Linked DNA regions of Homo sapiens: region 2 is reported to be linked to region 1. The links are microRNA targets in miRTarBase. Many come from high-throughput screens and were not tested one by one. Region 1 holds a microRNA gene; the other region holds the end of a gene's coding sequence.
What was found. Region 1 holds the annotated microRNA hsa-miR-34c-5p (AGGCAGUGUAGUUAGCUGAUUGC, at 1,955-1,977, shown strand). A microRNA usually pairs through its seed, bases 2 to 8, with sites in the 3' UTR of a target mRNA and lowers its output. Matches are read on the target gene's strand: a 7mer-m8 pairs with bases 2 to 8, a 7mer-A1 pairs with bases 2 to 7 and ends in A, and an 8mer does both.

Region 1 (5,373 bases):
AAACTAATTTAGAACTAAGCCTTTGGTGTCAGCAATGGGTGCTCTATACTGGATGCATGAAGACCATATTTCTAGGGGAGGCTGCTTCCAGCTGAATTTCACAAGGTGAGGATAAAGAGAACATTCCTTATCCTCTCCTGATTAATTCATTAAAGGCAAAGGAGGGGAAGGAAAGTTATTAGCAGAGATCTCCCAGAAGTCCTCTGTAACTGTCCCTTTTGCCCAACTGTCACAAGATACTGTTTTTCTGGCATCCACAGCCCTAACCCTGAATATCCAAATGTACTCGTGCATCAAGGATCTACTCAAGTCTCACCTCCTCTGGGAACCTTCTTTGACCTATTACAGCTCTCATTGAGGACCTCCCTTCTATTTCTGATACAAATAGTTTCTACTATTCTAAATAGTCCCTAGTTTAGTAATTTATTATATATATACTGTCTTGAATGGTATGGCCTTGATCTCAAGAGGACCACGATTTGATGTAACTAACAAGCTGCCTGGCTCACTATTTGACTAGAAGGCCCAGGCTTCACATCACTGCATGGCCCTCTAAGAGTATAAGGCCAAGTCCCCAACAGAGCACAGAGGTGCAGATGAGACTCTCCAAGCCATCCTCCCATATGTCAGAGGCTACCCAAGCCCACCTCCATTTGGAAAATTCAAACCTATAATTTGAGGTACCTGGGAAGCCGCTTTCCCAGGGCGGAATGGTCACGGAAACTGGGTAGGCTGGGGGCCTTCTTGGGGAATGAGGGAGTGGAGGAGCTCTTTGTCCCTCCTGCTAGATCAGAAAGAGAAACGTCTCAAGAATCTGGGCCTCCATCTTCTAGGCGTCTCCCTTGGAGGCCCTTCAGGGACCGCCCACAGCGCTTTCTCTCAGCCTCCTCCCCCCCCCCATCCCCTCCCCCACCCGCCCCGTCTCGCGCCCGCCCCGCCCCTCGGCCCGCGGGGTTCCAAGGACGGTTGGTCGCCCCCGCCACAGTCACTCGGCCGCTCAGAGCGGCGGGGCGCACGGGGTCGAGAGAGCCAGCTCTAGGGTTTGGGGCTGGGAACTGAAGCCTGGCGTGAAGGAAGTGGGAGCCCGGGCCGAGGAGGCGAAGGGGAAAGGAAAAGCGAGGGGAACCTGAGCGGGAGGGCCCTGAGAGGAGCGGGAGGCTGCGGGAAGGGGAGGCCTGGCACTCCTGGGGGTCATGGGGGTCGGGGCGCGGCTCCCGGCCTGGGAGGGCGCGGGTCCTCCCCGGCAGCGCCGCCCGCTGGCCCAGCTACGCGTGTTGTGCGCTGCGAGGCCGGCGGGGGTCCCGCTGGGCCCGGGGGTGTCCTCGGGGGCCGCTTGCGCCCAGCCATGGTAGGGCGTCCCCCGGTGAAATGGGGTCCGAGGCGGGCCCCGACCCCGCGTCGGCGCTGCGGACCGTCCGGGAGCTGCAGCCGCGGGTGCCCGGTGCTCGGTTTGTAGGCAGTGTCATTAGCTGATTGTACTGTGGTGGTTACAATCACTAACTCCACTGCCATCAAAACAAGGCACAGCATCACCGCCGCCCGGCCGGGAAGAAGACGCCGGCTCGGGCAGCCCGCAGCCTTCGAGAGAAGATGCCTGAGAAGCGCGGCGTCGGCGTGGGTCCTGCGCAGCCTGCCCCGCGAGCGCCCGCTGCAAGTGCGAGGAAACCCGCGGTTTCTCCAGATACAGTTAAACTGTTAGCTCTCTCTAGGAGTCACAGAAGATGAAACAGTCTCATGCCAGGAAAGCAAAATCCCTGGAGGTGAAGCCCCTCCATCCATGTAACGGTTAATACTGTATGCTGTGATTCACTGTGTCTATTTGCCATCGTCTAGTAGAGTATTCACCAAGCTAGCAACTCAGTTGAGCTCCAACTCAACCAATGAATTGCCTGCCTGTCACAACGTGTTGGGGTACCAACTTGAGACTGCAATTTTTTCTATGAGTCTAGTTACTAGGCAGTGTAGTTAGCTGATTGCTAATAGTACCAATCACTAACCACACGGCCAGGTAAAAAGATTTGGGAATTCGTCCAAATGAGCTGCCTGTGCATCATCAATGTGCGTGGGGAAGAGGGGTGTTGGAAAATGCTGATTTCATCCATTGCCTATTAATTGCTCAGCCAAAAGAAAAAAATCAACATTTCAGCTACTAAGTTTACAATGTATGTAATGTGTATGTATGTGGGGTTTTGTTTTGTTTTTTTTTCAATATTCCTTCAGGCTCTTAACCAAAATTTTAGATATAAGGGGGAATATGATTTTTTTCTTAGCTGACTGATGTATGTTATTATATGAACATGTGATTATTAACTTCTTGAGACTATATTGTTAGTAATATTTTGAAAGTAATATTGTTAGTAATATTTCGAAAGAATAAAGTGCCATAAAGACATAAATTGTGGTTATTGCTATGTGTCCATTTCCTTTGCTAAATTGACTTTATGATGTCCATCTCAGTTCCTGCCACAGTAATCTTAACTTTTCTATCAATGAAGTGGTTAAGTTGTTCCTGCCATGACAAAAATCTCCCGGGAAAGCTACTCATACACACAGACTTGTTAATACTTTTATAAGAAATACATTAACAAAATTTTTCATACTTCTTTTTTCCATGAAGAGACTCTGTTCACTCATTAAGATGTATCCCTTCTTTTAAGTAATCATTTACAACTGTTGGAGTCTATGCAACTTTTAGTGGGAGTGATTAGTAAATGCACTTACACTTTAAATCCAGCTTGTTTCCTAAGATTTAAAGGATTCAGAATTTTAAAATCACAGAAACTGTACACATGGGCACGTATCCGCCCAGTTCAGGCCTCTAGCTCCCAAGGGCTAGGCTTTCAGGCGTGAATTCTCCAGCGCAACGTTCTCAGAACTTCCACCTAGCAGGTGCTGTCCCTGGCAATCTGGTTTGGAAGTGGGGATTGGGGCAATGGGGCTGAGGAATTTAAAGTTTATTTAGCTATCTTTCTGGGGGGAGGGGAGAGGATGTGGCAGCCCACTGAGGATATAAGAAGCTAAACTACTCCCCCACTGACTCCGACAGGACACAACCCAAAGTTGACGTTTTGACTCTCCCATATCCAAGATTTGGACTGGTCCTAAAACCTGATCACCGCAGGGGTGGGCTTCCGACGGCCCCCACGCGCGTGGCGGATCCCAACACCTACCTAGGAAACCGAGGGCAGCCGGCAGGGGCTGGTACCAACTTGGCGGTTCTCGGAGGGGCGGGGCAGGGGCGGGGCGGGGGGAGGGGAGAGGACGCTTGCAGAAGCGTCCTCAGTTGCCATGGAAACGGGACCCAGCGAAGAACCTAGCGGCCGAAAAGAGTCCCAGGAAATGTGCCCCCCGGGATTACTGGTATTTGCTGGCTCCTCGGAACAAGATGCCAACTTGGCTAAGCAGTTCTGGATCTCGGCGTCGATGTATCCCCCTAGCGAATCTCAGCTGGTGCTGCGCAGAGACAGCAGTCAGCGTCTGCCGGTGGCGCGGCCCAGGAGGAGCAGAGGGTCTGGTGAGTAGAATAGCGGCCTCCTGTCAGTCATATCTGCCTCACCGTAACTGGCCTGCAGGTACCAGAGCCCTTTCCAGGAGAAACTGCAATGGTATATACAAATAGTTATAAGTACATACAAATGCATGTATAAATATTTCCTGAACCCTTCCAGCAACCCTTCCACCCGAAAAGGATCAGTGGTATATATGTTACATCTAAAAACATATAAGTTTCCCTTAAATTATGGCATCTATTTGGTAAACAGTATAGAATAATCTGAGGAAATGCTATGTGTTGGCTGAAAGGATAGTTTACATAGTTTAATTCAAACATGAAAAGCCCTGGAGAAAGATGAAGGTGGAGTCAACATTACCAATGAACTTCCTGGACCTGTGAGCCCTTAGTGAGGCCTAGGATGTGGAAACTGTTATGCAATTGTTATAGTATAAAAAATTCAAACGCCTTTAATGTTGTTGACTTTTCCAATGATTTCTTTACTTCCCTTTTGTATTTTTTAGAAAACAGCCACTCCTCGCAGTCTTTTCACCTTGCGAGTAACAGTAAGTACCAAGTTTTATGCCTTTCAACATTCTGACTCCTAGGTTCATCAGAAAATAGACAATAAGTACAAGGGTACTACTTTACACTGTGGTATAACTTTCTGAATTGAACACCTAAGTCCCTGCTCAGGGACCACCCTGTTTATCCAGAGGACAATGCCTAAATTCCTTTAACAGTTTGAACAGGAATGTAGAAATTGGAATCTCTGATCCTGCAGATATGCTCTCTTTCGAGACTTTTTCTTGTCTCTGGACTCGAGCTTACTCATCATCTAAAGAGATTAGAGGTTCCCTGCAGCCATAGCTAATTAACTCAGTCTCCAGTTGTTTGCAAATCTGGTTTGTAAAGTTCCAATACACCACATGTATTTTTGTTTACCTTCCTACTCTATGTATTCCCTTTCAACCCATGTCCAATTTTATATCAATTTTAGTATAAAATCATAATAAAATTATTTCAGATTGAATTTGACTTTATTCCCTCTAGAAAATAGAGACATCTTTGCCGAAGCCCTAAAGATACAGGAATCTGAGGAGAAAGTAAAGTATCTCCAAAAGGTAGGCCAATATTTCAGAAGGTCATCTGATCATCATTAAATTTCTAAATAATCTTGATTTTTTAAACACATGTATATTTAAAAATCTGCTACTTCTAGTGCATCAGCTTGAGCAAATTAAGGAAACCTTTATTAGAATTTTAATTGAAAATTTAAAAATTCTATTCAACATTGGCTATTATCAATCTCAGCAAAAGTCCAAGAATGTATAGGAACAACAGAACCAGAGAGAAATAGAAAGAGGTAGAGTCACACACTTTCCATCCAGTAAGGTCCCCAACCATATACAGTGTTCTAAGAACAGAAATAGCATAAGAGGCCAGGTGCAGTAGTACACACCTACAATCCCAATGCTTTGGGAGACCTAGGCAGGAGGATCCCTTGAGGCCAGGAATTCAAGACCAGCCTGGGCTACATAGTAAGACCTCTAACTCTACAAAAAAAAAAAAAATTTTTAATTTGCCAGGCCTGCTGGTGCATACCTGTAGTCTGAGCTACTTGGGAGGCTGAGGCAGAAGGATCCTCTGAGTCCAGAAATTCAAGGCTGCAATGAGCTATGATCTCACCACTGCACTTCAGCCTGGGCAGCAGAGTGAGACACAGTCTTAAAAAAAAATCATAAGAACAGGAAAAATCAAATAGAATTAATTGTCTTAATAGGTCAAAATTAAATGATCAGAGGAATGAGTCTGTCATCTAGACCTGTTTTGACTAAAGGCTGGAATTAAACACATTGGTGTAGTCAAATCAGCTGAGCACA
Region 2 (5,373 bases), not on the chromosome of region 1:
CCCTCGTGGGGGCGGAGCTTGTCTGCAGGCTCGGACTTGGTCCGTAGACTTGGCTGCGCGGGGGGGCGGGGCCTATTCTCATTGCCGGAGCCTCTCGGGAGTAGGAGCAGGAGGAGGCCCGACCCCTCGCGGCCGTAGGTTTTCTGCAGGCATGCGCGGGCCTCGGCCCAACCCTGCGATAATGCGAGGAAGATACGGAGTGGCTGCCGGGCGCGGAGGCAGGGTCTCAACGGATGACTGGCCCTGTGATTGGGTGGCCCTGGGAGCTTGCGGTTCTGCCTCCAACATTCCGATCCCGCCTCCTTGCCTTACTCCGTCCCCGGAGCGGGGATCACCTCAACTTGACTGTGGTCCCCCAGCCCTCCAAGAAATGCCCATAAACCAAGGAGGAGAGGGTAAAAAATAGAAGAATACATGGTAGGGAGGAATTCCAAAAATGATTACCCATTAAAAGGCAGGCTGGAAGGCCTTCCTGGTTTTAAGATGGATCCCCCAAAATGAAGGGTTGTGAGTTTAGTTTCTCTCCTAAAATGAATGTATGCCCACCAGAGCAGACATCTTCCACGTGGAGAAGCTGCAGCTCTGGAAAGAGGGTTTAAGATGCTAGGATGAGGCAGGCCCAGTCCTCCTCCAGAAAATAAGACAGGCCACAGGAGGGCAGAGTGGAGTGGAAATACCCCTAAGTTGGAACCAAGAATTGCAGGCATATGGGATGTAAGATGTTCTTTCCTATATATGGTTTCCAAAGGGTGCCCCTATGATCCATTGTCCCCACTGCCCACAAATGGCTGACAAATATTTATTGGGCACCTACTATGTGCCAGGCACTGTGTAGGTGCTGAAAAGTGGCCAAGGGCCACCCCCGCTGATGACTCCTTGCATTCCCTCCCCTCACAACAAAGAACTCCACTGTGGGGATGAAGCGCTTCTTCTAGCCACTGCTATCGCTATTTAAGAACCCTAAATCTGTCACCCATAATAAAGCTGATTTGAAGTGTTACCTTTTTTTGGAGGAATTGGGGAGAAGAATGGGAAAAAAGATGGGAGTGACTGCATAATGTCAGCATTTTGTGCTTTTGGCTCAGCATTTGGATTGGATGGAGGATGTAAGTATAGTTTAAAAGCAAGAATAAGTATATTTAGGGGCCCTATGATAATTTAGGGTATTATCTGAAAGCAAGAATCTAGTAGCCAAGGGAGAAACCGCACACACTAGGTCAGGGGTCCCCAACCCTTGGGCCACAGACTGGTACTGGTCCATGGCCTCTTAGGAACTGGGCCACACAGCAGGAGGTGAGCAAGCATTACTGCCCAAGCTCCACCTCCTGTCAGATCAGCATAAGCATTAAATTCTCATAGGAACTCGAACCCTATTGTGAACTGTGCATGCAAGGGATCTAAGTTTCTCGCTTCTTACGGGAATCTAATGCCTAATGATCTGGGGTGGAACAGTTTCATCCTGAAACCAGCCCTCCGTCGCCACCGACCATGGAATAATTGTCTTCCACGAAACTCTTCCCTGGTGCCAAAAAGGTAGGAGACCACTGCACTAGATGATGCACACACTTTGTCCCTCATCCTAGGGCTTTTACTTATGGCCACTTAGGAGATTCCTAAGGCCACAAGTCAAGTAGATGGAGAGAGTATCTTGAAACTTTGTCCACCTTGCAGCAATATGTTGCTAGGTTTGAAACATGGAGTCATGAGGCATTTTGAAAGCCAATAATATCTACAGTTTATTAAGTATTCACTATGCATCAAGTGCTTCATTACATTATTAATACATCAACCCTATGAAGTAGGTGCTATTAAAACCCTATTTCACTCAGAAATTGAGGCACAGAGATCTGCCCAAGATTGCAAGGAATAAGCGGCAGGACCAGATCTCTTCATCACATTTCACATTCCAAATCACTCAGCTATAAACTCCCTAACATGACAGGTTGCCATTTAGAGGTACCAAATGGTTGTCTGCCCTGCTCCTTCCTTGATGCCAACCAGCCTGATTAGCATTGATCAAAGACCAAGCCAGAGAGGTAGTCCTCTCCCTTTTCAATTTCATTTCATTTCTTTCTTTTTCTGAAACAGGGTATTGCTCTGTTGCCCAGCCTGGAGTGCAGTGGCACAAATGGCTCACTGCAGCCACAACCTCCTGGGCTCAAGCAATCTTCCTACCTCAGCCTCTCATTGTTCCATATCTATATCTCTTATGCCCAAAATAAAATTTCCCCTGCCCCTTGTCTGCACTAAACTATAAGTTTCCAAAATGAACCCTTCCCGTACTCTATTTGGTACACATCTTGTCTCCTGAATAGAGTGTATTTTTTATTTTATTTTATTTTGGAGACGGAGTCTCGCTCTGTCACCTAGGCTGGAGCGCAGTGGCACAATCTCAGTTCACCGCAACCTCCGCCTCCCGGGTTCAAGCAATTCTCCTGCCTCAACCTCCTGAGTAGCTGGGATTACAGGCGCATGTGGCCACGCCCAGCTAATTTTTTGTATTTTAGTAAAGATGGGGTTTCACCATGTTCCCCAGGCTGGTCTCCAACTCCTGAGCTCAGGCAATCCACCCGCCTCAGCCTCCCGAAGTGCTAGGATTACAGGTGTGAGCCACCGCAGCCGGCCATCTCCTGAATAGATTTTAAATACCTAGAGGTCAGGGATGATTATTCAATACATATATATTGAATACTTACTATGTGTTGGACCCGGTGCTAGGGTTTTATGTATATATTTGAGAGCTCCACATCCCTGGATCTGAATCCTCCACTTCCCACTGGAACCATGCCCCTCCCAGTCCCGGTAAGTAAGAGGGAAGATCGGGAGGGCCAAATCCTACACCAGGGTCTATCTTAGGGAGGGAAGGGACCTGGCTGGGGGGAGGGGGATTCTGAGGAGTGAAACCACTTCCTGTGTAGCTAGTTCCTGTGTTGACAGAAAGAGCAGAAGAGGAGGTGGGGTGGAGGGAGCAGAGCCAGGGATTAGGGGACTACTGAGGCTCTGGAGATGAGACCGCCAGGAGTCCTTCCCCACCATGAGCCCCCTCCACTCCTGCAGCTGGAGGAGTTTTTCCCAGTCTCAGTGCTGCCCTGGGGCGAGAGAGACTGAACAAGCTGTTTGGGTGGGAAGAGAATGGAGGAAGTTGACAGGGATGGGCGGGGCCCGTGGGGGGGCTGACCAGGAACCCAGCTTCCTGCTCAGTACCCAGGCATCCAGCCCCCAGCTCACCCCCACCCCTTCCAGCCCCCACTCCCCTCAGGAACCCAAGGTTCCAGCCCTCCTCCCAAATCCCAGCCACCCCTCCCCCACCAGTTTCTCCCCTCTAGGGGATGGAGGCTGAGAGACCCCAGGAAGAAGAGGATGGTGAGCAGGTGAGCTGGGCACGGGGTTGGGGAGGCTGACACTGGGAAAGAAGGGAGGTGAGAGGACCTGGGGCAGAAATGTAGGGACACAGGGGCCTTGAAAGGCTTGGGCAAACTGAGGCAGGAACAGAGACACACAGAGAGGAAACGGGCCACTGGCCTAGCCCCCTGTCCACTCCTCCCGCTTCAACCACCACTGCTTGACTAGAATGGACATATTTTGGCATCAGGGCCCCCCTCAGGATGAGGAAGGCTGGCCCCCTCCAAACTCCACCACTCGGCCTTGGCGATCTGCTCCTCCATCCCCTCCTCCTCCAGGGACCCGCCACACAGGTACCCCTACCCACCCAGGGAGAGCCCCGACCCTAGTGCCCACATCCTGACCCCATTACCAAGGCCCACTCCATTGTGGGCCCTCTCCCCACCTCCTCCAGACTCCCCTTGGGATTCCCCATTGCACCCCCTCTCCTCTGATCCAAAGTCCCTAATCACGTCACCCTGTCCACACTCCCCCACGGCTCCTGTCTGCCAACCTCTCTGGGTCTCTGAGCCCTCCACACCCCTCTCCCCAGCCCTGGGACCCCGCTCGGCCTCCCTGCTCTCCCTGCAGACTGAACTCCTTCTGGACCTGGTGGCTGAAGCCCAGTCCCGCCGCCTGGAGGAGCAGAGGGCCACCTTCTACACCCCCCAAAACCCCTCAAGCCTAGCCCCTGCCCCACTCCGTCCTCTCGAGGACAGAGAACAGCTTTACAGCACTATCCTCAGTCACCAGGTAAGACATCCCCCCAGGAGGCAAACCCAGGCCTCCTGGTCTCTTGGCCCCTGTTCTCTTTGGGGCTCTACTCCTGTTTCTCCCTAGGCACCCCATCGCCTTCACAGGTTTCCTATATGCCTCCCCATACCAACCCTTGATCCTCTCAAGAACCTCCTCCTCTCAGACCCTCACCAAAGCTCTCCCTCTCCCTCCACTCCTCCAGTGCCAGCGGATGGAAGCCCAGCGGTCAGAGCCTCCCCTCCCTCCAGGGGGGCAAGAGCTCCTGGAGTTGCTGCTGAGAGTTCAGGGTGGGGGTCGAATGGAGGAGCAAAGGTCCCGGCCCCCCACACACACCTGCTGAGACTTGAGCCCCAACCAGCCCTTCCTTGCCACTGGTCTCAAAGCTGGGCAGCCCATTGCATGCCCTCAACTCTTGCTTGGCAGGGGTACCAGAGACTGAAAGACACGGCACAAATCTCAATATTCATCTCCCACATCACCTTCCCTGGGAACTGGACAGGGTGAAAGTCCTCAAACTCTGGGAACAGGCGAGATGGAACAGGGATTTAACTCCCCGCCCACAGGTCCATGGGAGCTTGAGGCAGTAAGGGGGATCCCAGGCACCCATCTCAAGGAGTGGCTGGGAGTCTTTTCCCTAACTTGTGGGGACACCACCAGTTGTCAAGCTACTAGGCAGTAGGGTCTGAGGGCTCAGGCCTCCACCTGAGAGGTTATAACCTGAGAGACAGCTCTACCCTTCCTCCCAGTAAGAAGGGAAGGTGGGTGGGCACCTGAGAGATTAAGACTATTCTCCCAGTCCCACTACCAGCACCCCCGATCCCTGAGACTGAGGGGTTTACGGGCTGTGAATGGACCTTCAGCCCTGCCCACCCTCCCTCCCCACTGCTGCTGAGTCTGTCTGATGTTTTGGTTGTGTGAATAAATATAATTCCCCTCTGGACTGCAGACTGGTATCTGGGGGGCCCAGGCGGGGTGAAAGGTAGGAAGGTGAGGCCAGAGGCCTTTTCTCTCCCCAGTCTGGCCAGAGGCCAGCTCCCCTCCCCGGCTGGTTAATTACTGGCTCATTAAGCAGCGGCTGGAGACCTCCCTAATTATCTCCCCCAGCCCCCCTCTTCGGTTTTAATTAAGTAGAACAGGGAGGGGAGTCATTAGAACAAGAAATATGAACTGAGCTGCCGGTGAACCCAGGCATTCCAGCGGCCTGAGTCCACATCGCTTAGATCCCTGATTCAGGAC

Region 2: the mRNA of NOTCH4 is a reported target of hsa-miR-34c-5p. Seed matches in the 3' UTR shown: 7mer-m8 at 773-779.

Annotation. Positions count from the first base shown.
Region 1 is chr11:111,511,497-111,516,869 of GRCh38, forward strand. It overlaps MIR34C (microRNA 34c), which reads left to right and starts at 1,943; the gene lies at 1,943-2,019. BTG4 (BTG anti-proliferation factor 4) reads right to left here and starts at 890. Exons shown (of 5, transcript NM_001367975.1): 1 at 685-890. HOATZ (HOATZ cilia and flagella associated protein) reads left to right here and starts at 3,282. Exons shown (of 6, transcript NM_001100388.2): 1 at 3,282-3,514; 2 at 4,015-4,056; 3 at 4,544-4,614. The coding sequence starts at 3,289. MIR34BHG (MIR34B and MIR34C host gene) reads left to right here. Exons shown (of 2, transcript NR_147706.1): 2 at 1,522-2,392. It also overlaps MIR34B.
Region 2 is chr6:32,190,470-32,195,842 of GRCh38, reverse strand. It overlaps NOTCH4 (notch receptor 4), which reads left to right. Exons shown (of 30, transcript NM_004557.4): 30 at 1-1,000. The coding sequence ends at 406. It overlaps GPSM3 (G protein signaling modulator 3), which reads left to right and starts at 3,200. Exons shown (of 4, transcript NM_001276501.2): 1 at 3,200-3,371; 2 at 3,593-3,695; 3 at 3,935-4,134; 4 at 4,340-5,077. The coding sequence starts at 3,330. The coding sequence ends at 4,477. RefSeq lists enhancers at 1-255, 5,286-5,373 and a silencer at 4,721-4,899.